Linked DNA regions of Homo sapiens. The protein of the gene in region 1 purifies or fractionates together with the protein of each later gene. This does not show direct contact. Each region holds a gene or a part of one and is shown in the gene's direction. Other genes may lie near its edges. The genes, in order: SLC25A10, SCGB1D1, LACRT and CST4.

Region 1 (6,932 bases):
GACAGGCCATGTTCCGCACCTGCTTCGGGAAACATGCCTGGTGTGATGGCCCCGTAGGCTGCCATGCCCTCCAGCCTCAGTTTTCCTGGTGGAAGGATCCCTTGGATGGGACCAGAAAGGGGCACCGTGTGTCTGGAAGCTGCCCACTGGCTGGGACTCCTGGGGGAGCGGGAGGGGCAGGGAGTTTCAGGCTCACTGTGCGTGTACACCCTGCCTGGCCCAGGTCCTCTTCCAAGGCCTTCTGGTAGAGTTTCTCTGACTAACCTGCTGTCCCCAGGAAAGGCTGTCCCAAGCCAAGCCTGGAAGTCCCCATTGGCCATGGTATCCATTTTGAGGGGTTAATGGTCTTCCCTCAGGAGGTGACACTGCCACCTGGAGCTGGGTGCATTCTGCCTGGTGCCCTGCTGACCCCAACTGCCTTTCCCCTCTGGAAGGCAGCGAACATCTGAGCTCAGGGACGAGCCCTGCTTGAGGTCAGACAGACATGCTGTCTTCATCCAGGCTGCACCCAGGCCAGATAGACCAGCAAAATCTCTGCCCGCGACTCCTCGCTGTCTACCCTGGCTCAGGCGTCTGCCAGGCCACTCGCAGGAGCCACCGAGAGGCCCTTTCCTCCCTGCCGGGGGACCCCCAAAATAACCTGTGGATGCCAAGCAGCAGGACACTGCGGTGGATGCCAGGCCGCAGTCGGAGGCTGGACGGGGAGCCCTGTCCCGTGAGCTTGCTCAGTCTGCCCCAACCACCCCCTTGGGCCTACCGACATAACTTATGATCCGTTTGAGAATCCATCAGGGATCCTTGTGAGTCCCCGACCTGCAGTTCTAGATTCATCATTTGAAAAAGCCTCTGGCCCTGGATGCATTTCCTGTTTTCAGGATTCCTCGCCTTCTGACTGCTCTCCCAGCATCTCTAGCTCACGGAGTTCACAAACTTCAGTCCCCTACAGCTCCTTGCACTTTTGTTCTATTTTTTTTAATGTTTTATTTACTTATTTATGTATTTATTTTTATGAAACGGTGTCAGTTTGTCACCTGGGCTGGTGGTGCAGTCTTGGCTCACTGCAGCCTCCACCTGCCGGGTTCAAGCAATTGTCCTGCCTCACCTTCCCAAGAAGCTGGAATTACAGGCATGCACCACCACGCCCAGCTAATTTTGTATTTTTATTAGTAGAGATAGGGTTTCACCCTGTTGGCCAGGCTGGTCTTGAACCTTATTTTTATCTTTTTTAATTTTAATTTTTTTTGAGTGAGTTTTGCTCTTGTCACCCAGGCTGGAGTGCAATGGCACGATCTTGGCTCACTGCAACCTCCACCTCCCAGGTTCAAGCGATTCTCCTGCCTTAGCCTCCCTAGTAGCTGGGATTACAGGCGCCCGCCACAACACCCAGCTAATTTTTGTATTTTTAGTAGAGGCAGCGTTTCACCACGTTGGCCAGGATGGTCTCGAATTCCTAACCCCAGGTGATCACCCACCTCGGCCTCCCAAAGTGCTGGGATTACAGGTGTGAGCCACCACACCTGGCCTATTTTTATTTTTTAATATAGACACGATCTCACTCTGTCACCCGAGCTGGAGTGCAGTGGCCTGATCAAGGCTCACTGCAGCCTCAGCCTCCTGTGCACAAGCAATCGTCCTACCTCATCCTCCCAGGTAGCTGGGACTATAGGCACGTGCCATCATGCCTGGCTAATCTTTTGATTTTTTTTAGAGATGTGGTCTCACTGTGTTGCGCAGGCTGGTCTGAAACGCCTGGCCTCAAGAGATCCTCCTACCTTGGCCTCCCAAAGTGCTGGGATTACAGGTGAGAGCTGCCCTGCCCAGCCTTTTTTGTTCTTTGTAAAGCTCTTCAGTTCCTGCTCCTTACCCGCTGGGCCCTGCTCTTTCTGCTTTGGAGCAGTTCTTCCTTCAGCAGGGAGCCAGTGTTCTGTGGGTTGGGGGGTCTCTGCCAGCAGCCAGTTTCAGCCCTGTCTTGCAGGTGGCCTTCGGAGGGACAGGTTGCAGCCCAGGCCCGCCCCCCTCCTTCCTGGAGTGTCTCACAGACTCAGGGGACACTGGCCCTCCAGGCCCTGCTTCCCCCAAGGTTTCCATCCATCGCCTCTTGATTCTTGGTAATCGGGAGCCGATGGATGCAACTCATCTCGGTTTACACTGAGTGAGACAGGCGCTGTGGGCACAGCCAAGTCTGCGGGACTCAGTCAGGTGTGAGCCTGGATGGCCCCGGACAAGGAAGCCTGTCCTCTTGCTGGGAAATTTCCGTTAAGATCGGGCCACTTCCCCTGCTTCCTAACGGTTGAGTCTGTTTGCTCTGGGCCTTTTAAGCCCAGCGTGATCCCTCTGAGTCCCTGCGGTGCATTTGCGCCATCTCCACGCTTCCTGTTGAGCCCCAGCCCAGGCTTGGTGCGGGCAGTGCTGCACTGCACTCTCCTGGTTGCCTCCTGAGCACCTCCACCCGCTTCCCCACCAGGCGTGGCTGTGTTTTCACCCCCAGTGTCCATCTGGCACCCTTCTCGATTGCCAGGTAGTTACGGTCTGTGTGGGCAACACCTGAGGGACCCAACCAAACCAAGGTCCAGGACACACTTCCGGGCAGGGGTACCGCCTCTGGTTAGCTGCTCACTCCCCAGCCCAAATCTTCCGCTGATGACTTCTGGGGTCAGAGGCCACCTAAGGGTCTAGAAAACAGTCTCCTCCAGTTGGCTACCTGCCTACGTTGGGGTTACGGCCCAATAAACCCACAGCCAAGCTGAAAATCCTAAGTGTGCGTCTTGCGCTTCCGACACAGCCAGGGCATCGCTGGATGCGCAGAGGCAGGGCTGGACACATTCTGGTGCTTGAGGGGTTCCAGGGACCACGAGTTGTTTTTCCGGTGCTCCTCACCCTTCGCCCTGGAGGGTGGGGGAGGCCGGACAGCAGTGACCAAGCTGGAGCTGCAGGTCTTCATCCCTGTGGCCCAGCCCTAAAGCAGCCTTGGGGACTTAAATTTCATTTTGCCCAGCAGGTGCACCTGGGCCAGGAACACACCAGCGCCTCCTTGTTCTTCGCAGGGAAGTGGAATCCAAGCAGGGGCCCAGATGCAGGCAGGCATCTCCTGGGAACAAGAGCCCCAGAATCCACCCCGGGGCCCCACTTCCAGGGTGGTTGCCTGGGGCGTCTGGTCAGAGCCAGACCAGAACTGAGCAGGAGCTTCCGGGCATCTGTGTGTGGGAAGGGAGAGGCAAGTCCTTCCTAACCGCCTTTTTTCCCAGTTTTCATTCAGTCTGGCCCCAAGCAGGTTCTTTTTTTCTTTTCTTTTTCTTTTTTTTTTTTTTTTTTTTGAGATGGAGTCTCGCTCTGTCGCCCAGGCTGGAGTGCAGTGGCGCGATCTCAGCTCACTGCAACCTCTGCCTCCCGGATTCAAGCGATTCTACTGCCTCAGCTTCCTGAGTAACTGGGATTACAGGCGTGAGCCACCGCGCCCGGCTCCCGAAGCCGGTTTTCTGTTCTCTTGCAGCTGGGCCGGGGCTGAGCCCTCGGTGGGGGCAGGGGTTGCAGACCTGTGGACGCAGGGCCCACGCCGCACACACGTGGCCCCCGCCAGGTGACTCACGAGCCAGCGCCTGCGCGGCGGGGTGGCCACCGGGTGCAGGTTCAGGGCCAGGGGCCGGGCCTCCTGGGGATTGGCAGGGCGCCCGCCGCGGTCCCATGTGCCTGGGGCCGGTCCCCGGGCGGTGGCCTTCGGCCCTGCGCTCCGGCCTGGAGAAGGGAGGACGCCAGGGGCCCGGGGGAGTGGAGGCGGCCACGCAGCAGCCCCGGAGCACCCGCGCGTCCGCAGGCCGGGCCCACCGCGCTCGGCGCCCCTCGCGGCCGCTTTAAGGCGCCGGGCCCGCCTCAATCGCAGGGGGCGTGGCCTAGCGGTCCCGCCCCCGGGGCGCGCGCGCGCATTGGCTGTGCGGGGTGCGGGCGCGCGGGCGGCGCTTTGAACCGGGCGCGGGGCGCGGGGCGCGGGGCGCTGCGGCCGGTACACGCCGGGGTAGGGCCGGGGTCGGGTTGTGGTCGGGCCGGGATTGGGCTCTCCTGGGCCATGGCAGCCGAGGCGCGCGTGTCGCGCTGGTACTTCGGGGGGCTGGCCTCCTGCGGGGCCGCCTGCTGCACGCACCCGCTGGACCTGCTCAAGGTGAGGCCGGGGCCCGGGACGCGGGGCGGATGGGACCCTGGCGCCGCCGAGACGCCTGCAAAGGCAGCAGCCCGGCCCCACGCACCCGGGGATCGCCGCGCCCGGGGCTCCCTCCTGGAGAGCGCGAGGAGGCCCCCGACGCCCGGATGGCCGATCCCGGGTGGCCCTCCAGTGGTGGCCGCCGAGCTCGAGGCCTGCAGGGCGCAGCCGCGCTCCCCAGCTTCCCAGCCGGCTTCCCAGTTCTCGGCAGGTGGCGATCCAGCCCCAGCTCTACACTTTAATACCTGGTGACCTTGGGGGAGTCACTTGGCCTCTCTGAGCCACCCACCCCCATACATTCAAGAACGCTCCTTCCGCCTAGTTAGAAGTTGTGGGGGGAGTTCTGTGAGGTGCACAGGTGTTGGCATCTAGAGACGTGCTGGCTGTAGCATACCCAGGGTGTGGGCCAAGCCGCCCCCCACCCAGGGGTGTTTAGCACACCGCCGGACGTGTCCCTGGGCAAGTGGGGTGACCCGATGCCCCGGCTTTGGGCTGCTTCCTTCGGAGAGCTGCGTGGGCACTGGAAGCGATGTTAGGACCAGCACACCCCCAGGAGAGATGCCAGGAGACCCTGCACGCGTGTGGTCCTGGCCCTATGAAAGCGGGCGTTTCTCAGCACGAGAAGCAGCCACCGTTTTTTTACTTTTTTTTTTTTTTTAATGCTTATGGGGCAAAATAAGACAGAGCTCTCCTTGTTTCCCAGGGACAGCCAAGGGGCGTTGTTTTCTGACCGTGTCTTGCCACAGAGAACAAAGAAGAAAGGGCCTGAGGCTTTGCACAGTCTGCCCAGCAGGCCCTGCCCTGTGAACCTGGCTGTGGTCACTGGGCAGCCGCCTGTCTAGGGGACCTTTATTTTAGCAGCCTGTCCAGGGGACTTGTATTCCAGCAGCCTTTGAGGGGACTGGCTTTACTAATGAGCAACAATGCTGGTCGCTGCGTGAAGGCCAGGTGAGCAGATGTGGGCGTCTTGGGGCACCTGAGACCTCACTGGTCCTGGGAGAGGCCTTCAGAGCTCCCAGGCCACAGGCAGCCACGGCCAGTGAGATGCAGCCACAGCGACAGGAAGGCGCTGGCATGGGCAGAAGAAGCGAGCCCCTCCTTGGCATCGGGCTCTTCCTTTCCTCCTGGGCGCCGCACAGGTGCCCCTCCCCCAGGGCCTCTCCCACGTTCATCTGGGTGTTGAAGGCGGGACCTGCGTGCTGCTGTCCCTTGTCCGGGGTCTGAGCCCCACTGCCCCTTGGCCCTCCCCAACCAGGCGCTCTCTGGCTGCAGAACACCGCCTGGGGGAGGCGGGACTGCCCTCTGGCCTGGGAGGGCGGGAGGAGCCAGCTGCTGGCAGCATATGGCGCTGTGGTCAGGGTGTGCTCCTGAGGACTGCTCACCAGGCCTCTCTGCCTGGCCGTCGGAAAGATCTTTTAAAGCTTCTTGAGCACTTTGTCCCATGTCCCTACAGTCCCTACCGTCGCATCTGGCCGGGACGGGGGCTGCTACCTGTGTGGCCCAGTCCCTCTGTTCTGCTGGGCTCGCACAATGGGAGGCCCCTCTCTGTCCCCACCCATCTTTGCCGACCCCTGGGCGTGCGTTACGGGGCCGCGCACGTGCAGGTCACACTGAGCGGCGGAAGGACTTCTTTGGGGTCAGTGCTGGGGGTGGGACCCAGGAGCTGGGATCCTGGGCCAGGTGCTGGCCTTCCTGTCTGGCCCTGGCCAATCCCCCTACTGCCGGGAGCTCTCAGCTGGCCAGGCGAGGAGGCAGAGGTCCTGTGAGTGGTGGAGGCCAACAGAATGGGAGGTTGTCGGGCTGACAGCCCCCGAGTGCCTGCCCACAGCTCCTAGGTGCTTTGCAGAGGAGGCCGCTATGCCCTGCCGCCAGCCACACCGTCCCCTTGTCTGCTGCTGAGCTCCTGCTGCCTTTCAAGGCCTTCTATGGCTACCTCCTCAGTCTCCCATGGTCCTGCAGGCTCCCTCGCCGTTTCTGAGCGGCCATAAACGTTTGTCCCTCTTGAGACGTGGTGTGGTGGATAAAAAGTAGGGCTCTGGGGTCTCCTCGCTGGGCCCAAATCCTGATGGCACCAGCGGGTGCGTTACCTCTCCATGCCTCAGTTTCCTCATCTGCAGAAGGAGAATGGCGAGCCCCTGCGGCCAGTGCAGCCAATACTCAGGTGGTACGCGGGGCGCTCGCGGGGCTCGCGGACACTCTCAGCTCCATGTCCACTGGTGTGGTTGCTGTTGGAAAGCAGTGGTGTGAGCTGGTTCCAGGCACGGGTGTGGAGTCCCCGGGCAGGGCCGTGGGAGGCCTTATCACTGCCTCCTGCCTCAGTTTCCCCCTCTCTGGATGAACCTGGCACCGATCCCTCGGGGTCGCTGTGGGGTCTGAGAGCACTCACTCCCGCAGGTGCATCTGCAGACGCAGCAGGAGGTGAAGCTGCGCATGACGGGCATGGCGCTGCGGGTGGTGCGTACCGACGGCATCCTGGCACTCTACAGCGGCCTGAGCGCCTCGCTGTGCAGACAGGTGCGTGGTGTGTGCCAGCCTTGGGCTCCCAGACTGGGGCTGAGTCCTGCAGTGGCATCCAAGCTACTTCCGTCCCCTTTTCAAGACTTTGTGCAAGGAAGGACCCACCAGGCCGAGAGCTGGTGACCCCAGGGTGCGCCTCCCATGGGCACCCACCCAGTTTGCAGGGCTGGGCCTGAGACCGCCACTTACTGGTGGGGAAGCTGAGGCCCAGGGAGTGAGAAAG
Region 2 (7,610 bases), on another chromosome or scaffold:
ATTATACTCCACTGCTTCAAGGGAGTGTTATCTCCCCAAGCAACCTCTGGAATGCCGCTGAGCTGTTATGCTTTAGGGGCAAAAAGACATGAAGGCAATAAGGAGACTTTTCTCCTCAAAGGCCACCCATGGCTTCCCATGGGTGTCTCACACAGGGGAGACCAACTCATCTGGCATCCCAGAAACTCTCTTTCCCACAGAGCTGATTAAGAACCATTGCTGGGGAACTAGTGTGGTCATTTGGAGGTAAGACGACACTCTGGCTTTTTGAGTTGCCAGAGTTTTTGTGCTGATTCTTTCTCATCTGAGTGGACTGATGTTCTTTTAATCTTTGAAGTTGCTGTCCCTTGGATGGGCCTCAGCCTCCAAAGTAACTGGGACTACAGGCATGCACCACCGCGCCCAGCTAATTTTTGTATTTTTATTAGAGACGAAGTTTCACCATGTTAGCCAGGATGGTCTTGATCTCTTGACCTCATGATCCGCCTGCCTCGGCCTCCGAAAATGCTGGGATTACAGGTGTGAGCCACTGCACCCGGCCCGGTTTTTTTCTTTTGCATTCTTTGATGCCCTTGAGGGTTTGACTGTGGTATCAGTTGGGTTCAGTTGACTGGGCTTTGTTTCTGGAAGATTTCAGAAGGCCAAGGTTCAGTTCAGTTCAGCACTCCTGGGCTGCTTGCTCTAACCCTGGAGGCCTGGTACCAGGCCCATTGCTTTGTTCTCCGGCCCCTTGAGGTTAAGCACCCGCTGTGCTGGTGAGGTGGAGGTGTTCCCAGTCTGCTGGCAACAACACCCTGCCAAAGCACTTCATCAGAGCAGTGGCAGCAGGATCTGTGCTCATGTGAATGCATGCTGGCAGCTGTGGTGGCAAATCAATATTGACAGTTTTTCTAGTGGATTGTCTTAAATTTCCCTGATAGTTGAATAACTATCTATAAATAATGACCAATTTATGTTCATGGATTTATCTTTTATATGAATTTTGCCCTTTGTTTGAAGAGAATATTGTTAACATCATGTTTCTCTCCATACAATTTTTTTAATTTAAATAGACAAATAATAATTGTATATATATATTTTTCTTTAATTTTTTTTTTGAGACAGAGTCTCATTCTGTCATCCAGGCTGGAGTGCAGTGGTATGATCTTGGCTCACTGCAACCTCCGCCTCCCAGGTTCAAGCCATTCTCTTGCCTCAGCCTCCCAAGCAGCTGGGATTACAGACACCCAGCACCAAACCTAGTTAATTTTTGTATTTTTAGTAGAGACAAGGTTTTGCTATGTTGGTCAGGCTGGTCTCAAACTCCTGACCTCAGGTAATCTGCCCACCTCAGTCTCCCAAAGTGCTGTGATTATAGGCACGAGCCACTGAGCCTGACCTAAACTTGTATATTTTTATGGCATACAATATAATGTTTTGATGTATGTTTACAATACACACATCAAATACAATCAAATTAATTAACAAATCCATCACTTCACATACTTTTTTTTGCATTAAAAACGTTTATTTTATTTTATTTCATGTTTTTAGAGACAAATTCTTGCTCTGTTGCCCAGGCTGGAGTGCAGTGGCATAATCAGGGCTCACTGTAGCCTGAAACTCCTGGGCTCATGCAATCCTCCCACCTCAACCTCTTTAGTGGCTGTGAATACAGGCACCCACCACCATGCCTGGCTAATTTTTAAAATTGTTTATAGAGACAAGGTCTTGTATGTTGCCCAGGCTGGTCTCGAACTCCTGGCCTCAAATGATCCACCTGCCTTGGCCTCCCAAAGCGCTGGGATTACAGGTGTGAGCCACCATGCCCGGCCAAAATGAGAAGATCTTAAGCCAACCAGGGAAGGAGTAGAGCAGTCATCAAAAGTACCACCTATGAAAACTAGAAAAAGCCCCGAGCAGATGTTAAGAGCTACAGGAATGATAAAAATATGTGGGAAGCAATCCTCTTTCAGATATACACATCCTTCCTAATGGAATATACAGATGAAGGCCAAGCCCACATCAGGAAAGCTCTGTTCAACAGCTATGGAAAATTCCTCACCCATCTGTCATCTGTAAGAACCTAAATTCGTGTCCCTGGGTCTGCAGTCTCAGAGACCATGAGCTGGGTTTCCTCCATTTATTTCAGATAGTGGGGGTGTATCCAGGTTTCCTTAGACAGTTGTGTGTCACTTAGTGACTGGGACACATTCTGAGAAATGCATAGGCAATTGTCATTGTGTGAACATCATAAAATGCAGTTATACAAACCTAGATGGCATAGCCTACTGCACACCTCAGCTATTAATAGGTAAGCCTGTTGCTCCTGGACCACAAACCTGTACAGCATATTACTGTTCTGAACACTGTAGGCAGTTGTAATACAATGACAAGTATTTGTGTATCTAAACATATCAAAACAGAAAAGGTGCAGTAAAAACACAGTATTATAATTTTAGGGGACCCCTGTTGTATGTGGGGTCTGATATTAACTAATATGTCCTTATGTGGCCCATGAATTGTAGTTCTGAAAATCAGTGATTTTTTTTTTTGAGGGGTTGGCTGTGCTTTAAACTAGGAACTGGTAATGATCCATGAAATGTATGACAGGTGGGACAAGGTAATAGTAGTCAACATTTATTGAGCGTTTACTACATGTCAGACCTTGTTAATTTTTTTTTCTTTTTTGAGATGGAGTTTTGCTCTTGTTGCCCAGGCTGGAGTGCAGTGGTGCCATCTCAGCTCACCACAACTCTGCCTCCCTTGTTCAAGAGATTCTCCTGCCTCAGTCTCCTGAGTAGCTGGGACTATAGGCACATGCCACCACACCCAGCTAATTTTTTGTATTTTTAGTAGAGACGGGGTTTCACCATGTTGGCCAGACTGGTCTCAACCTCCTGACCTCAGGTGATCCACCCGCCTCGGCCTCCCAAAGTGCTGGGATTATAAGTGTGAGCCACTGCGCCTGGCCAGACCTGGTAAATTTTACACACACACACACACACACACACTCATTTGAACATCTATCAACCCAATGATGTAGGCACCATTTTTAACCTACTTTTACAAACGAGAAAACTGTGTTTACATAAACTAATTTTCAGAGGGTTCAATAGCCCATAGACATGGATCTGAACCCTCCTAGCCATGGGCTTTGCCACTGGACCTTCCACTCCTTAGGGTTGGAGGCAGAGGTGGCATCAGGGGCTTCCCCACCATTTTGGGTGATGGAAGTGAGAGGCATTGTCGCCCTCAGCTGGGACTCAGCCAGACCTGCCAAGGTGTCTCTGATGACACAGACCATAAGGTCCGCTTCCTTCATAAAGGTCTTTCTGGGTGGTTCTCAGTACTGCTGCCCATCAGACCCACCAGAGCAGTTTAAACAGAAGAGGACCTCGCCCTAGAACTACTGAATCAAAATCCCCAGAAAGGGAAGCAGCCTGCGGGGAGTCAGTATAGTTTAAGAGCCCCAAGTGATTTGATTGCAGAGCAGAGAATGGAAAGCTCTGGCCTGGGCTGTGACTGTTCTCAAATGTGTGTTCACTTAAGAGCCAAATTTCTGGTGATTTCCTACTCACCAAATGATGGCACTGCAGTGGAAGGGCAGAAGGGTGTCTATTGCTTTTGCTGGGGATGGCCTTCGCTTTCCATCAACAATGAGATGACCCAGGCAGCAGAGCTGGGTTAGAAGTGGAAAACTTGAGCCCAGAGGTTAGAGGGAAGTGACCACCCACCCTGTTCATCCATCTCTTCCTTTCCATTATCGTCCCTGCCTAGAAGCGAAGACCAGTATTTCTGATGCCTGTTTGCCTCCAGACACCCCAGCAGCTCCTTGGGTAAAAAAAGTTGGGCAATTTAATCATCCCATCAGCCCTATGAGGAGATATGGGTGGCTAGAGGTCACTGGAGGCTTGCTTTTAGTAGACAGAAAATTTGAACCTGTGCTATGTTGACAACTCCACCCATAAATAAAGACACAGATCTTGGAGTGAGACAGAGTAGAGGACAGGGGGAGTGGTTGTTTTCCCCAAGGAAATCCTCCAAAGGTGGGGTGTATGCAGCTATGTTTTAGGTACCTATGTGGTGAAGATGGTGGGGATGGAAGGGGCTGAGTGGGAGGATAGGTCTGGTTCAGACTTGATCTATGTGCAGCTGAAACACGTGTGGCTGATTGTCAGACATGCAGTGGAGGTCAAAGTGGGGTCTCTTCTGTGCCTGCTCTCCTATAACCAAACCACAGCCCCTAGCTTCCTGCACCCCCGGTTTCTGTCCTCCTGAAATGAGAACTCACATTTGCCCTTGCACTGACATAAAGAACAGAGAGATAATCCTCAAAAGCCCAAAAGCAAACTGAGGTTCCAGGGAACATTGCCAGAGGCACCTGGACACTCACCTGGAGCACAGAGCAGAGTTTCTGCAGGGCTGCCCTCCCGTGCTCCGCCCCACTCAGGATGCAGGGAGGTGTGGGGATGTGACACTGATGGATGGCAGCAGCCCTGGCTAGGAAGGGAGGGCTGGAAGCCAGGCCTCATCACCTGCCAGATGCCCATGTGGGCAGGACCAGCCAGGCTCCCTAGGTACAAATAGCCCTGGGCTCCACGGCTCCACAGGCTCCCGGGGCTGAGTCTAAATCACTCATCATTGGTTAAAGCCGAGCTCACAGCAGAATAAGCCACCATGAGGCTGTCGGTGTGTCTCCTGCTGCTCACGCTGGCCCTTTGCTGCTACCGGGGTGAGTACATCAGTCATGAGTCCAGCACCAGCCCTTGGGACACACCCTTCTCTGAGCACGAGGTCACCTATTAAGGTTAAGGTTGGGGTCTGGAACAAACCAAAATTCCAAACCTTATCCTGTGCTTGTTGAAGGAACTGCTCATAAAGCTCGGGCCTCATTTCATCAAATCCCCAGTACCTAGGAAGTTTTGCAGAAAATCAATGCAGGCGAACGTTAGGAATTCTGCCTGAGCTTCACTCTTGGATGGGATCTGTGTCAGATGATGTAATGTGAGGTCTGGGGTGACTCTGGGCTCAGCCACTTCTCAGCCCTTTCACCGTGGGCAAGATGCTCACCCTCCCCGCGCCTCCTCCTATCTCTGGTGCTTAGAGCTTCTTCCGGGAGTGGCAATGGGAATGGAGTGGGATTATTGTGCCAAGGGTCTAGCTGTGGATGTGAAGCCAATCACTGTACTGTCAGACATTCTCGTCCCCAGACCTTTAGGTGCCAATTGAGCTCACAGCTTCTTACATTGTAAATTCAGACTCATAAAATGTTACATCTCGAAGGATCCTTGGAGAACTCTCAGTCCAAGAAGAGATGGTGCTTTCTGATTCTCTCAATAAGAAGCCTGCAAATGAATTCTTAGAATAAGCAGCACTCAATATATCTTCTAGGGGTCCTACCGTAATGGTGGTAGAAATACTACAATGGTTAGCCTCAGAACTTCTATTTTTCTAAAATTAATTCTGGCTGATTTTTCCCCAGTTCATTTGGGTACTTTCCTTTCCCCTGTCAGGACCGATCCAGACTCTGATTTTTCTCTTTCCTCTTCTTTTCTGAACCTCTCCCTGTTTCCCTGTGACACCCCGATCCTACCCTCTCCAAATTCTCCCCACAGTTTGAAGTCGGGTAGTCAGGGGTCATGTTGAGCATGGTGGGGCGCTTTCTGGATGCATGGTGTTTGCAAAAGACTTAGGTGAATGGAGATTCCAGACCAAGCAAAATGATTACTCCAGGTCTTTCCAAAATTCCCAGTGGGAGCAGGAATGAGCCTCAGTTCCCTCCTCTCATCCTCTCCAAATATTCTAGATGCTGCTGCAGAATATGGGCCAAGTACAATTTCCTGTATAAGCTTCTAATGTGTGTTAAAACTGATTCACATTATTTTATTTTGTTTTAATTTGTTTACCTTTTAGCTCTGTCTGTATTGAATCACATAAGCCTAAATTCTACAACTTGTTCTCAAAACATCACCTTCAACATTTCAATAATTTTAACTTCTTCTGTTCCAGATTTACTCATTTCTCTAATTTCTGATAGGATTCTGACTCTACCATTCCACTTCAAAATTTGATTACTCAAAGCCTCCTCTTCACCAATGTCCAAGACTAATAAAGTGTCACTTAACTGGCATAGAAAAGTGATTATTTTCAAATCTAGAAAAGAGAACGTTGGCCATCCATCCAGAGAAGCTTTGGAAAGTAATGAGTGTGCTTTAAAAAAAAAACAAAGACTGAATGAGTGATCAGGAAGTTGGTTCTCCAGTTCTAGCTCTACCCTTTGCTGTGTGACCTCAAGGAAGTCACAACCTCCTGGGTCTGACATTGTCATTGGCATAGTTATTGAATAGAAGCCTAAAACCCTGGGGTTCCTGTCTGGTCTGACATCAGGGAGGCATGGGAGAAACACTGATTTCCTTACACAAATTATATTTTTATTCTTTTGCTCCAGCAAATGCAGTGGTCTGCCAAGCTCTTGGTTCTGAAATCACAGGCTTCTTATTAGCTGGAAAACCTGTGTTCAAGTTCCAACTTGCCAAATTTAAGGCACCTCTGGAAGCTGTTGCAGCCAAGATGGAAGTGAAGAAATGCGTGGATACGATGGCCTATGAGAAAAGAGTGCTAATTACAAAAACATTGGTAATTTCTGTCTCTTTCATGTGTCCAGGCTTCTGGTCAGCGGCACAGTGTGAAGTGAGGTCAGCTTGCTTGCTGCTCTGTGAGGGACACAGGTGGTGGGGCACCTGCCTTACTGGTCACCGCTTGAGAAGGTCACCTGGGACCACAGGGTGGGTGCTACCATTTCACCTGCAGAATTCAACTCAGCTGCACACAGCCTCCTGCATGTTCCTCCTTCTCAGGTCACCTACCTGGATGCCGTGTCCCCAGAGTGTGCTGAGGACATGGGGAGTGAGCCTGGGTCCAGGCAGGGGTGGTGAAGGGCCAAGCACAACTGTCTCTCCACCTGGGGACTTTCCTGAGGCCAAGTGGACCTCACACAGTCACTGTGGAATGTACTGGGGAGTGTGGGAGCCTTGAACAGGGAGAAGAAGGCAGGGAGGGACCTAGAGCAGGGGCTCCTGCAGATGCTGCGCTGGAGGGCTGGACTTCTCTGCAGCTTCTGCAGAACCAGGAAGGAGCCCCTCCCAGCTCCTCAGACTCCACGCTCCCCTCCTCACCCACGATGCTCTCCTGACCACGGCCAGTGGGCCAAGACCCTCGCTACTCTACCTCCTGCAGTGCCATGGAAGCGGGATGTTCTCACTCTGTCTTTCTCAAGAAATCAGAGGTTTTCCAGGGGCCTCTCAGCCTGGCTGCCTCTGGGTTGCTGTCCTGAGGTTTAGCTGCAAATGCTCATGGAAGCTGCAGGCTCAGGATTGAGGTGCTCAGGCCCTGAGGCAGAATTCCCACATGGGGAGGCTGGAGTCTCCTGGAAGCCAAGCTTCCCAGAGGCCCTCCCAGCCCTGACCAACCTCTCAGCACTGGGTCTTTCATTGCGGGGAACAGGAGACTCCAAGTCCTGGGACAGCCCAGACAATAACCTCTTGCTGCTCTGCTCTGTCCCCCCTCTATGAGGACCCTGGGCCTTATGCTTGTGTCCCCCCAGGGCTATTGGCCTGGCAAGGAAAGGC
Region 3 (7,137 bases), on another chromosome or scaffold:
ATTTCTCCACATCCTCTCCAGCACCTGTTGTTTCCTGACTTTTTAATTATTGCCATTCTAACTACTGTGAGATGATATCTCATTGTGGTTTTGATTTGCATTTCTCTGATGGCCAGTGATGATGAGCATTTTTTCATGTGTCTGCTGGCTGCATAAATCTCTTCTTTTCAAAAGTGTCTGTCCATATCCTTTGCCCACTTTTTGATGGGGTTGTTTGATTTTTTCTTGTAAATTTGTTTAAGTTCTTTGTAGATTCTGGATATTAGCCCTTTGTCAGATGGGTAGATTGCAAAAATTTTCTCCCATTCTGTAGGCTGCCTGTTCACTCTGATGGTAGTTTCTTTTGCTGTGCAGAAGCTCTTTAGTTTAATTAGATCCCATTTGTCTATTTTGGCTTTTGTTGCCATTGCTTTTGGTGTTTTAGTCATGAAGTACTTGCCCATGCCTATGTCCTGAATGGTATTGCCCAGGTTTTCTTCTAGGGTTTTTATGGTTTTAGGTCTAACATTTAAGTCTTTAATCTATCTTGAATTAATTTTTGTATAAGGTGTAAGGAAGGGATCCAGTTTCAGCTTTCTACATATGGCTAGCCAGTTTTCCCAGCACCATTTATTAAATAAGGAATCCTTTCCCCATTTCTTGTTTTTGTCAGGTTTGTCAAAGATCAGATGGTTGTAGATGTGTGGTGTTATTTCTGAGGCCTCTGTTCTGTTCCATTGGTCTATATCTGTTTTGGCACCAGTACCATGCTGTTTTGGTTACTGTAAGCTTGTAGTATAGTTTGAAGTCAGGTAATGTGATGCCTCCAGCTTTGTTCTTTTTGCTTAGGATTGTCTTGGCAATGCAGGCCCTTTTTTGGTTCCATATGAACTTTAAAGTAGTTTTTTCCACTTCTGTGAAGAAAGTCATTGGTAGCTTGATGGGGATGGCATTGAATCTCTAAATTACCTTGGGCAGTATGGCCATTTTCACGATATTGATTCTTCCTATCCAAGAGCATGGAATGTTCTTCCATTTGTTTGTGTCCTCTTATTTCATTGAGCAGTGGTTTGTGGTTCTCAGGAGGGCTTTTTTTAAAAAAGGTTCTTTAAGGAAAAATGTATCTATTATTTACAGAGATTCAAGTATGGACTAGCAACAGCAGGAAGTCTGAAGCAGCGTGTTGGGGGGTGGGGGTGAATAATGTCACCTGACAACAAGAGATGGCGCTCTGAAACAGGGACCAGACAGAAGCTGCAGTCAGAGAGAAACAGCCATTGCCACACCATGCTGCATTAAGTATCCGTGGCTGTAAAAATTATTCAAACATTTGGTGGCTTCACACATGATTTCTTATCCACAGTTGTTATGGATCAGCAGTCCAGGTACAGATGCGCCCTCAGACACAGAGTCTCTAATGAGGCTGCAGTCAAGGTATCATCGAGGCTGCGGTCACCTCAAAACTCAGCTGAGGAAAGACCCACTTCCAAGCTCAGTCACGTGGTAGCTGGCAGGGTTGAGTTCCTCACAGATAGCTGGACTAAGGGCCTCGGCTCCTTACTGGCTACAGGCTGGAGGCTGTCCTCGGTTTCTTGCCACGTAGGTCTCTCCACAGGACAGCCTCACACATGGCCACTCACTTCATCAGAGCAAGCTGAGAAGATCCAGAGACAGAGTGTGTGTAAACAAGACTAAAGTCATAGTCTCAGAACTGACTACCTCATCACTTTGCCATCTTCTATTTGTTAGGAGTGAATCTCGAGACCCAGCCCAGTTAAGCAGAGGAAATTACAGCAGGGCACCAATGCCAAGACGTAGGCATCACCAGGAGCTATCTCTGAAGTCGTCCTACCACACATGCCAAAGCAAGAGAGGGAGCAGGAGGAACAAATGCCTTAATCTCTCCCTTTTCCCACCCTCCCATCTCCCACCTGTGTCTCCCATTGGCCAAACTCAACTCGAAGCTAGAGGGCATGGGAGCCCAGGTGATACAGCCCATAGAGGCATCCTTCCAGACCAGTGCAGAGATGAGAGAGAATAAACCTGAGGCAGAGGGGAGAGAGGTACAACGAGCAGCCCATGAGACAAGACACAGATCAGCGAACTGACAGTCATCATGGAGGTCAGATAACCTAGAAAACAAGACATCACACAGAGCAGCCCCTCACCCATATCCATGAGGTCCGTCAAGACATTGCACAGAGCAGCCTCTCACCCATATCCATGAGGTCTGCCTCTTTAATCTATGCACCCAATTCTTTCCCAGGCTCTATAATTTGGGGTAACATTTCTCTGGGCCCTGTTATAGAATAATGAAAATTTTCTATAAAACAAATGTCCTTACTTTCACCTCATCCCTATTTATGTAAATGCTTGCCTCTTTAATTACTGAGGCCAGGAGGAAGATTTGGGAGAGGAAAGGGCTATGCGGTGACATTTGGAAAGACCCTGCTCTGTGACAGTTCTAGTGTTGACGCCAAAGTTCTCATTTCCTCTTAGAAAAGTCTTGTGCAAATAGCATAATTTGCTCCTGTTGACTTTTTTAATGTGCTCATGGAGACTGCTCGGGATCTAGATCTGTTTGGGATCTGCAGGACTTCTCCTTCTGCAGTGTACACACACGTGCACACACGTATGTGCACATACCCAGGGCACTGGTGCCATCAAAACTTTCTCTTGTTCTTCAGCCTTCCCCATTCCAGGTAAGGCCACCACCACCTTCAAGGCTCCCAGGCCCAGACCCTCAGGCAGGTAGCAATTGCCAAGGCTTTAATGTCCCACCCCATTAATTTTATCTTCCTTTATCTCCTGAAAAGATTAATGTTCTAAACCCTGGCACCCAAAACACCCTCATGTTGAAAACTCTTCAATACCCCCTTCTCACACTCATCTTCAGAGCTACCATGAGGCAGAGAAGCCTCCGGAATCAGCCCACATGGGGCTGGGTGAATGCCAACACCAAGCAAGGGGAAAGTCACAAATTGACATCCAGCACCTTATTCTCCACCCTTCAGCCCCTCAACTGACTCCTGCTCCACGGCCCGTTCTATTAATATCTAGCATTTAGCACCAGCCTGGACAAAAACCTACTTGGAAAGATGGTACAAGAACCCCACACAACTCCATAGAACTTCGCTGTCTAAAAAAATGCTTTGCCGTATATTATCCCACTTAATCTCCACCACTATGCTGTACATAGGAGCCACAACTCCTAGACAACAAATAAAAATCCTATCACTTTTCAAATCCTAACATTTTCATATGACAAAGCCAGAACTCAAAATCCAGACCTCTAGAGTCCCAGATCAGGAAAGGAAGAAACGCCAAGTCAAAGAGAAGCTTCTTTAGAATAATCTGCTTTTCTGGATTATTCACACCATGGGTCAGCTCCCCACTTGAAGTCAGAACCAAGCTCCAATTTCAGTGAACCACCATCATGCTTTGACCAGGAGATTCTCTCAGAAATGTGGGGTCCCATTGAGTAGGCCTGAAGACAGAGATTGACAGGCCTATGTGAGCCTGGAGGAGTTCTTTTTAGGGGCTGGATAATGTCAAGAACAGAGAACAACTCCAGAGAAGGCACACACGCCTTCAAACCCATCCCCTCATGGGGAGAAAGCAGCCAGGAACTCAGGCCTCAAGTGTTCTAGGTGTGGTCTCCCAAGGAAACGGGCTCACTTAGTTTGGGGAAACCTTCAAACCCTGCACTGAGTCCTATGTAGACTGGGACAGAAGGTGGACAATGTAATCCCCTGAGCCCTCAACCTCCTCCTGGAGAGATGACAAGATTAAGATTTCTCTACCAGAACCCTCAACAGACACATCCCAGAATCTCCCCAAGTGAAATGTGCTCTACCTACCGTCCCTGAGAGCCCAGGGGTGTGAACCCAGAGGGCAGGTGTGGTGGGGAAGGGAGGAGGGAGAAAGAAAAGGGATGGCTGGGAGTTAGAGAAAGGCTCCTATCCAGGACCTGCCTGCAAGGATCCCAGGTATCAGCCAGCCCAACCTAGCCCTTGTTGACTTAGCAGGTGACAGTTTGGGGAAGAAGGGGAGGAGGATGCGGAAGTCACACCTCTCCAGGCTTGGTTCCCATTGGCCCTTGATATCCTTAAAAGGGCCCAGCAATTTCAGCATCCTTATTCCCCAGACCTTCTGCAGATTCTGTGGTTATACTCACTCCTCATCCCAAAGAATGAAATTTACCACTCTCCTCTTCTTGGCAGCTGTAGCAGGGGCCCTGGTCTATGCTGGTGAGTATGGCCTTTCCTCTGCGCCCCACAAGAGTCCTCCCAGTCCAAGGAGCCCCTCACTCCTGCCTTCACCCCTCTCCTCCTCTCTCAGTGCTATTCTGGTTTCCCTGCCTCTGCAAGTGACTCCTCTCCCAGTTCTCCACACGTGGCCTCTGCACCCCACTGGCCAGAGGAACCCAGAACTCTCTGGCCTCTGCCTGCCCTCCCAGCTCATCTCCTCACACACCATTGTTTACCCACTATGCCTCAGCTACACTGGCTTCTCTGGTGTCCCCTGCATGTAGTTGAGCAGGGTGTCCCCTACACGAGGGTGCCCAGGCAAGGAGTGGTAGAAGCTAAAATCTGGCCGACACTCTACTTGCCAAGCAGTGAGCCTGGCCCCTGGCTGTGTCTCTTAGGAGGAAGGGATGCCTTTTTTTTTTTTTTTTTTTTGAGACCGAGTCTCCCTCTGTTGCCCAGGCTGGAGTGCAGTGGCACGATCTCTGCTCACTGCAACATCCACCTCCTGGGTTCCAGCGATTATCTTGCCTCAGCCTCCTGGGTAGCTGGGACTACAGGCTCATGCCACCTTGCCCAGCTAATTTTGTATTTTTAGTAGAGACGGTGTTTCACCATGTTGGCCAGGTTGGTCTCGAACTCCTGACCTCAGGTGATCCGACTGCCTTGGCCTCCCAAAGTGTTGGAATTACAGGCGTGAGCCACCGTGCCCTGCTGGGATGCCTTTTTTGATCCACAGAAGCACTATTTGGGCCATGATGATCCTGCTGTTCCTTGAACATCAGGATCTTCCTTCTTGTCCTTTCCTCGTCTAGAATGCTTTCCCTCTCCCTGGCCCCTTCCCCCAACCAACTCTAATGTCACCTGGCCAATGATTTTTCATCTAGAAAATCTCAGTTTACATATAATTCCCCAAAAAGGCCTTCCATGCACATGCGGAACAAATCAGATCCATGTGCCCTTCTCGCACCAGGCTGCACGTTCCCTTCCAGCACTGTCACACCAGCCATTAAATAATTTCGTAAAAGGACAGATGTAAGCTCTGTCAGGGCAGGGGTCTTGTCTGCCCTCTTCAGCACTGCACCTCCATCTCTTGGCACAGAGCTTTGCATAAATGTTGTGTTGAAAGAATAAAGGGAATCAAGGCTGGGGTCTCAATCCTGCAAATCGCTCAAATATGGCCCCATAACCCCCACATACTGTCCTCCTCCACCACAGAGGAGGTTGAGCCCCTCTGACCATGGCCAGCTCCATGACAGACACCTCAGGGAAGCCTACCAAGCCAGGGGCCAGTCAGGAGGAAGGCACTGTTCCAAGAGACATTACACTTCTCAGAGGGGAAGTTATTTCAAAAGCCACAGGAGTTAAACATCAGAGAGTGCCCCAGTAGACCCGCTGATATGGTGGAAGGGCATGTCCAACCCAAAGGGAAATTGATCCCCTTCTATCCATGAGCATTCCCAGGAGATAAGCTTTGGGAATGGGAGGGGAGGGTGGCTCGAGTAGGTCCGGTTCGGTCCTTGCTCTCATCTGGCATGTTTCCCCCATTGCAGAAGATGCCTCCTCTGACTCGACGGGTGCTGATCCTGCCCAGGAAGCTGGGACCTGTGAGTCCTCCTCTCCCTGCTGCCCTAGCCCTCGTTGGGAAGGTTTAACAGTTAGGGATGTGAGTGGTGGCTGGGAGAAGAAGCCAGTGGGAGGAGATCTGGATTCTGTGCTTGGTGGTAATGGGGAGGGGCAGGTAATATAATAAAGAAGGTGGCATGGGTTGAAATGGTACAAGGCTAAGGACAAAAGAGGATGACCCAGAGAGGCAAGGACAATAGGGAGCATGGGGAAAAGGTTATTGTGAATAAAAGGGAGAGAAACATGAGGTTAAGTGGTAAGGGCAATGTCTCACATGGCATTAATACCTTCACCTGCAAACACCTCCCATTACTCCCAATTCCTTAGCAAGATAACCATTATCTGGCCTCTAACCTCATTTTCCAACCCCATTTTCCATGACTCTCTTTTATGTCGCACCCACATCAGCTAAATTGAACTTGTTTCCATTCCCCACACATGCCTTCGCCTGACCTCTTACTCACTGCCTGCCCCCAGGGAAGCCCCTTTGGTACATCCTCTCCTGCTAACATCCTGCCTTCAAGATCCAGCTTCTCTATGAAGTGCTCCCCGATTCTCACCATCCCCTAGTCCAAATCCTTCCCCAACCCTGCCCGCTGCATTCCAAGAGACACACAGCATGCAGAAATGCTATCTCCCTTAAGGGGGCAGCGTTTAAGCCATATCACTTCTGTATCCTGGCACCCAGCACACATTAGGTATCCTGGGGCCCTGCAACCCATTCCAAAAGAAACAAACACTTTCACTTTGCTAAAATCCATCAATTTGTGCATTCACAGCTAAGCCTAATGAAGAGATCTCAGGTCCAGCAGAACCAGCTTCACCCCCAGAGACAACCACAACAGCCCAGGAGACTTCGGCGGCAGCAGTTCAGGGGACAGCCAAGGTCACCTCAAGCAGGCAGGAACTAAACCCCCTGAGTAAGTCTCTGTCTCTATGCCAGATCAACAACCTAGAAAAGTCTCTGGCTGCAGGCCCACATCACACCTCCACGCACAGAGATAAGCCTGGTGAGAAGCAGGTAGACTCAAACAGCTGAACACAAAGGCACAAATGGGATTGTGCATTGCACCCACACACAACGTTTTCACAATAGTAGATGTTGCAGCCTGCACAATACATGGTTTCTGTCCTGGCTCACACAACTTCCTATGAGAGAAGTGCTGGAGCCCTCAGCAAAACTTCTGCACTTTAGGACTTTCTGTAGGGATGATGTCCTGGGTGGAGTGGGGGTGGGGGGCGGGTGCAGGTGGGGCAATGCAGAGTTCTCTTTAAATGAGGTGAT
Region 4 (6,852 bases), on another chromosome or scaffold:
CCACGTGTCCACCATGTGTGAGGAGAGGGAGAAAAGAAGGAGGGATGGAGTGAAAGAGACGAGCTTGACCCCAGAGAATTCCAGGCACTCCATAAAGGAGACTCCTGGCCTTCCCATTTGAGAAGTCACCAAATCCTGTGGCTGCTCAGTCCCAGCTCCTACCATAGACCAAACTGTTAGTTGCTCAAAACCCAGATGTGCAGAATCTCAACTCTTGGCCAGCTTGTCCTCACCACTTGAACCTTTAGGTGATGCTTTCTGAGCTTGGCCATTTGTTTATTATAGTATTGTTTAGTGTTCACTTATTATTGGTCATTTATTGCAGAGAACTTCTGCCTGTCACCTAATTTCTCATCCTACTAATTCAGATAATCGGATCAGTAGTCACCATGCAGCCTAGGGGAACACAGCTTTCTCTTTCGTCACCTGGCAGAAGGAAAACATGCCCCCTCCTGGGCAGCTGGACTCCTCCAGGTTACATGGGTGCTGGAGGCCCCAAGCTTGTTCCTCAGTCCATGGTTGCTATCTGGCCCCCTCCTAGTGTGTCCTTAAAACTGTGGACTATAGAAATCAAAGTCTTCTGTCATTTTTTTTGAGATAGGGGTTTCACTGTGTTACACAGGCTGAAATTGAACTTCTAGACTCAAGGAATCTTCCTGACTCACTCTCCTAATTAGCTAGGATTACATGTGCACCATCACACCTGGCTACTCCATCATTTTCAAACATGTTTATACACCGCTACTGAAGTCCGCTCATCTCTGCTGGTCTGAAATCCCAGAAACTATGCTTTAGAAAGTAGCCTCTTTCTCCAGATGCACGACAGACACAACATTTACCTAAGGTCATCAAATATCTGGAGCAGCTGGCCAGCTACCTCAACCTGCCACTTCCTATAACTCCATACTGGACATCGCACTTGTACCTCCTCCTAAGAGCAACCTACATTGGTATCTTTCCTACTGGGATTAGAGAGTTTGCTGCATCAGGACAGCTGACCCTCCCTGCAGTGCATGCCAGAGTCCTGACAGAAGATGACCACTGGTGGTGTCATCACATATGGGGCACAGGTCAGCACTCTGGCCTCCCTCCCTCACACTCCACCCACCAGCACATTCTCGCTATTTGGGTTACCTGCATCTCCTTTCTGATGATTAAAAAAAAAAAAAAAAAAAAAACAAGAGGATTGCTTGACTTTCAGTTTACCCTTTGCACAGCATGTATGTCTTCCTGAGTCTGGACTCCCAGCTGTCCCAGGAAGGTGGGAGACACAGAGGAGAACTAACTCCTACCCTTTGGAGATGACCATTCTGCTCACAAACACCTGGTAAGGGACTTCCCTCTCTTTCCCTTCTCTGGGAATCTCTCCCCATTTCCTGTCTAACTAGGAGGCATATGTAAAGCTCTGTTTGAAGACCTTCCCTCCCTCACCCAGCAGTAAACACCATGGGGACACCTGCTGTATCTGCCAGGCTTCATGGCTATTCTAGGGGTGCTGGATTCACAGTGGGGTGAGATGGTCACCAGGACTCAGGTAACAAGGTTCCCTGTCGTAATACTGAACATGAGCACCCATAAGTAATATGGTTCCTGCTGCCAGGTTCCTGCTGATCCATCCCCAGACATGTCCGAGCCCAGGATGACTCTTGGCCAGCTTGTCCTCATCACTTGCACCTTTACGTGATGCTTTCTGCGCTTGGTCATTTGTTTATTATAGTATTGTTTAGTGTTCTAAACAGGTCTGGGCTGACACTGGCCAACCCTCACCTCCACCACTCCCAAGACAGTCCTCTGGGTGTCCTGCTAAGGCCCAGGGTTTCCTGGAGTTTCTGGCCAAGCCTGCCACCTCCCCATAAGGGCATTTGCCACAGGGTCACCTTCAGGCATGGAGGGTGGGGTTGAGAGAACAACGAGAGCAGCTGTCTGTTCAGAGCCTCCTTCCACCCTCCCCACTCCTGGAGACACATTCCAGCCCAGGCCCACAGCATCCCAAGCTGGGGGCTTTGTCAGCCCACAGGACACCCAACTGACCACATCCTCTCAGTCTGTGGAGAAGGAGAACTCACAGTCTTGGCAATGAAGCAACTCAGGTGCCGCTGGAAAGCCACACTGAGCAAAGGATGAAGACACATCAGGGCTCGCTCTGCAGGACTCCATTCCTGGGAAGCTCAAGGACAGGCGACAAAGGTGTCTACAGGGCCGGATGGGGGCTGCCAGGGTGGGGCGGGCACGAGGGTGGCTGGAGAGGCAGGAGGATACCGTCTGGGGCAAGGCAGATGTCACAGGTCTGGACAAAGTGGTAACACAAGTGTATGCATTTATGAAATCCCCCAGATTGGGCACATACTATTAGGCATTTTATTGTATGTAAATTCTACCTCATTTAAGGCAATTTTTAAAATGCCACGTGAGTCTTCCAAGGAGTGCACAGAGGAAAGGAGCCTGAAGCATGGCTGCCTAGGAGAGAAGCAAGAGAGGCCTGTGGGTTCCCACATTCATCCCGTGGCTGCTGCTCCCTCTCCTGACACCCCCACTGCCTCACAGGGGTCTCCGTGCACCTTCCACCGGTCCTCACCCACAGTTACCGTGAGACTCCAGGTGGTTTCCTCCCTTGCTCACATCCCCTCCAGGAGCTTCCTCTTCCTGGAGCAGGCATGTCCCAACCCCACCTCAGGGCCTTTGCACTGGCTGTTCCCCGCTGCCTGGGGCTGCTCAACCTCTCCAGTCTCATAGAGACCACCCTGACCAGGGTCCAGTGGTCTCTCTCTAGCCCCTGTTCTATTTCACTTCCAACAGAGTGAGTATAACTCCCTGATCCTAATTGTTGATCGTAACCTACCATCCTCTACACACACTGTGTAGGAATTTACTGTGCAGTTCCACAGCCACCAGCCACATGTGCCACAGGACACTTGAAATGGGGCCAGTCCAAAATGATTCCTGGGCTAAGTGTAAAAAATACACAGGGAATTTCAAAGATTTACAAAACCAAAAAAAAAAAACACACATAAACGATCTCATTAATAATTGTTCCCGTTAGCTGAAATAATATTGTGGCTATATTAGGTTAAATAAATATTTTAAACATTACTTTCACCCATTTATTCTCATCTTTTAAAATGCATCTACTAGAAATTTTCAAATGCTTGTGGGTTCATGTCACATCTCTGTGGGCAGCAGCTCTGCAATGTCACCTCTATGGCTCATCATCCAGGTTCCGTCTTCAAGCCCTAGACCTCCTGGCATGGGCAGTAACTGGTGATAGGTTTGTTTATTGAATAATGAGTTATGAAAACAGAAGCCAGTGACCTTTTCCAAAAAGGTTAATTCCCTTAAATTTGGCAAAGAAATTCTCCATATTAGGGTGTGGACAGGGTCTTCTGGAACCTTCTGAAATAACCTCTCTGTTCCAGAGATTCAGAGACCGTGACCAAGTGCTCCTGGAAGCCTCTGATATCTGAAGACCCCGGGAGGCCAAGCCCTGTATTTTTCCCCTTTCTGAGCAAACAGGAAGTCACATTGCTTTCACAGTCAAAGGACCAGTGTCACCTCTGTGGAGACCTGGGTGACTCAAGCTTGGGAGCACTGGGGAAGAGAGGCATGGCTCAGGGAGGCTGCAGTGAGGACTGGAGTGGGGAGGAGGGGGAGATGGAGGAGGAGGCCTGGGAGGGGCAGGGGGAACTTAGGCAGGGAGGGAGCTTGTAGTGGTGGGGGAGTGAAAAGAGAGATGGAGAAAGAGGGGATGGGCAGAAAGAGGAGGAGGAGTCAGGGGCAGGGCATGGAGGTGGGTGGGGCTGGGCTGCCAAAGCAGGATAAATGCACACCTGCCTGCTGGTCTGGGCTCCCTGCCTCGGGCTCTCACCCTCCTCTCCTGCAGCTCCAGCTTTGTGCTCTGCCTCTGAGGAGACCATGGCCCGGCCTCTGTGTACCCTGCTACTCCTGATGGCTACCCTGGCTGGGGCTCTGGCCTCGAGCTCCAAGGAGGAGAATAGGATAATCCCAGGTGGCATCTATGATGCAGACCTCAATGATGAGTGGGTACAGCGTGCCCTTCACTTCGCCATCAGCGAGTACAACAAGGCCACCGAAGATGAGTACTACAGACGCCCGCTGCAGGTGCTGCGAGCCAGGGAGCAGGTGGGTGCTGCCTCCACCCGAGGGGTCCTGAGCCCTAGCCTGGTTTGTTGCCGGACCCCCAAGAGCATTCCAAGCAAATCAACACTGACACATTCATGATCTAATGCTCAGATTCATTCAGCTTTCTCTGACTCTCCGCTGATGCCCTTCATGCCTAAGCATGCTCCCGGTCCATGCACTGCAGACAGTTAAAGGAAGTGCTGCAGCTTCCTTTAACCTGCAGCAGCTGCTGTGTCTGTACCATGACCGTGGCATTTCCCAGCGTCCAGCAGGTGTGGATGGAGACTGTGCTGACTCTGGGTGGGCTTGATGCTGCTCAGGATGAGATCCAGGCGGTGAGGCTCATTCTCCTCCCTGAGTCCTCTCCTCAGGGGCCACATGGGAACCTGGCTCCCTGTTCTGCAGAGCCCTTCTTCCTTCCCCAAGTCATGCCCTTGGGCACAGCCCCTTAGGGCTAGTGGCCTTCACCCTCAGGCAGGCTGACCCACCCCTGCAGGCCAGGATGGCTGAGTCCCTGCTGGGGTGGAGCACGCCTGGCCCTGCCTCTACGAGCTGATGCAGAGTTAGACCTCAGCCAGATGAGGACAGCAGTCACCCAGCAGAGCAGAGGAGGGGTTAGGTCCAGAGTGAGCTTCAGCAGGGCAACTGGGCCCAGCTTGACCTGCATCCCATGGCAGAGCAGCAAATAGTGACACAGCCTTTAGAGCTCCTCCACCTTCTAGAAATTCAAAGGAATCCAGACCAGTCCCGTTTCTCCTCCTACAGCTGTCAGCTGGAGCCCTCACCCTGCACAGGAGGTGCACTCCCTGGTGCCATGGTCCCCGCTGGCCTGCATCTCCCTCTTAAGCATGACAGTAACTTGGAGTGAAGCACAGGGCATTGCAGACCATCAGACCTGGAAGCCTATTTTATACATGGGTAAACTGATACTCGAGGGATCTCAGCAGTTCCTCCTGGTTCCAAAGAGTCCCTCATCCCAGGTTTCTCCACAGCTCTGCCACGTAGTGTCTGGGAGAGGCCCTGTGCAGGGAAAGGGTTCAATTATAATCTGCAATTGTAAGACACTCAGGTGTGCTGCTGACTTGAGAAACGTATCTTGAACCTCACACTTGAAATGGTGGCATCTGGGCGGCCCCATTGACCCAAAATATCTGTGTGTGTGAAGCATCTCATTTCCTACTCTAAGTGAAGTAATAAATCTAGGTTAAATGGAGGGAATAAGATTTTCGTGAGTTAGCTGAAATTTTGTCATCAGACAGCCTTCCTAGAAAAGAGTCAGTGTTCCCTCACCCCTGAGCCACAGGTAGCAGAATTCAATGAATCCTCTTACCCAGCACAGAGAAAACGATGTTTAAGAGCGGGCATGAGGCTCAGCACCCTGCCAGCTGACAGGAAGAGGGGGCTTGTGTGCCTTGTGTTGACATGTGGGCAGCTCACGAAGCCCCCAAGCAAGTCCAGTGACTCAGCCACAGTGAAGTGCCTGTGAGTGCATGAACTGATGGGGGCGCTGTCCGTGCTTCCTGTTTTCTCCTGTGTGCAGACCTTTGGGGGGGTGAATTACTTCTTCGACGTAGAGGTGGGCCGCACCATATGTACCAAGTCCCAGCCCAACTTGGACACCTGTGCCTTCCATGAACAGCCAGAACTGCAGAAGGTACGTTCCTGATGCGGGTCCCGGGCCAGTCATGCACTGCAGAGGGGTGCGTATGTGTCAGCCTCTGTCCTACCCATGTTTGGACGGTGTGTGTGTGCAGGTGGGTATGTGGGGAGCCGTGTATGCATGGATGTGTACGTGTTCATGTACTTATGGGGGGGTGTGCATGTAGGTGTGCATGTGGAAAGGTGCACGTGTGTACACACATGTGCCAGTGTGTGCGGGTAGGTGTATGGAAGCATGTGTGCCTGTGTGTGGGTGTGTGGCGGAAGTATGGGGGTTTGTACATAGATCCATGGGGATGAGGGGTCCAAGTGAGTTTACGTAGTTGCCTATGTGTGTGCAGATGGGGTGGTGAGGGAGGGGGTGATGTGTTTGATTTGCTAGGAAGGCTTTAGCTTGGGAATGGTTACTAGAAGGTCAACTGCCTGCTTTGGGGTGTTGCCTGTTGGACAGGAAGAATCACCTGCGGGGCTGGGTGCTGGGCAGGGAGAAGGGGATCTGTCTAATCCCAGCCTCAGGCACCTGCATGCAGCCAAAGCCACAATCAGATTAGTGGGACCTAGAGGCCTGTTAGCTGGGAAGCCCTGGACCTGCCCGGCTCACCCAACACCAGCCTCTCCAAGAACCTGCTGGTTCTTGTGAGGTCTCCACTCAGGGGAGAGCGGCACTCCCCTTGTTGCCCTTGACCCATGCCCCAGCTCTTTGAGGGGGAGTTGCCCTGCCCTGGGTTCTTCCCTCTGGCCCCTCTTAGTGCTGGCCTGGGTGCTGGAGGTGGAAGGAGCTGGGGGAACTGAGCCACCTCCCCATGTCCTGCACCCTTGGGGCTCCCGAGGCCTTGCCCAGGCTGCTCCTCACAGGGCTGTGATGGGACAGGACACTGCAGGCTGGGGTGGGGGCCCAATGCCACCTGGTGACTTGGAGCCTTGGGAGGGGTAATGGTACAGTCACTACTCATTCTAGTTCAGTGCTCTGGGACTCAGCAGGGGTGGGTGAGGGTGCAGTGTCTCACCTCCATCCTCCTCACCCAGGCTGTGACATCTCATGCCTGGGCATCTTCC

The links.
Region 2: the proteins of SLC25A10 (region 1) and SCGB1D1 purify together in Homo sapiens (affinity purification with mass spectrometry; 3 studies listed by BioGRID and IntAct, with this or other methods). This does not show direct contact.
Region 3: the proteins of SLC25A10 (region 1) and LACRT purify together in Homo sapiens (affinity purification with mass spectrometry; 3 studies listed by BioGRID and IntAct, with this or other methods). This does not show direct contact.
Region 4: the proteins of SLC25A10 (region 1) and CST4 purify together in Homo sapiens (affinity purification with mass spectrometry; 3 studies listed by BioGRID and IntAct, with this or other methods). This does not show direct contact.

Annotation. Positions count from the first base shown.
Region 1 is NC_000017.11:81,708,367-81,715,298, forward strand, and holds the start of SLC25A10 (mitochondrial dicarboxylate carrier), read left to right. Parts: upstream 1-3,917; 5' UTR 3,918-4,060; coding exon 4,061-4,153; intron 4,154-4,902; exon of another isoform or gene 4,903-5,140; intron 5,141-6,586; coding exon 6,587-6,706; intron 6,707-6,932. UniProt on the Homo sapiens protein: Catalyzes the electroneutral exchange or flux of physiologically important metabolites such as dicarboxylates (malonate, malate, succinate), inorganic sulfur-containing anions, and phosphate, across mitochondrial inner membrane.
Region 2 is NC_000011.10:62,185,626-62,193,235, forward strand, and holds the start of SCGB1D1 (secretoglobin family 1D member 1 precursor), read left to right. Parts: upstream 1-4,590; 5' UTR 4,591-4,659; coding exon 4,660-4,714; intron 4,715-6,430; coding exon 6,431-6,618; intron 6,619-7,610. UniProt on the Homo sapiens protein: May bind androgens and other steroids, may also bind estramustine, a chemotherapeutic agent used for prostate cancer. May be under transcriptional regulation of steroid hormones.
Region 3 is NC_000012.12:54,631,876-54,639,012, reverse strand, and holds the start of LACRT (extracellular glycoprotein lacritin precursor), read left to right. Parts: upstream 1-4,117; 5' UTR 4,118-4,171; coding exon 4,172-4,229; intron 4,230-5,779; coding exon 5,780-5,833; intron 5,834-6,631; coding exon 6,632-6,772; intron 6,773-7,137. UniProt on the Homo sapiens protein: Modulates secretion by lacrimal acinar cells.
Region 4 is NC_000020.11:23,686,027-23,692,878, reverse strand, and holds the start of CST4 (cystatin-S precursor), read left to right. Parts: upstream 1-3,840; 5' UTR 3,841-3,909; coding exon 3,910-4,137; intron 4,138-5,677; coding exon 5,678-5,791; intron 5,792-6,852. UniProt on the Homo sapiens protein: This protein strongly inhibits papain and ficin, partially inhibits stem bromelain and bovine cathepsin C, but does not inhibit porcine cathepsin B or clostripain. Papain is inhibited non-competitively.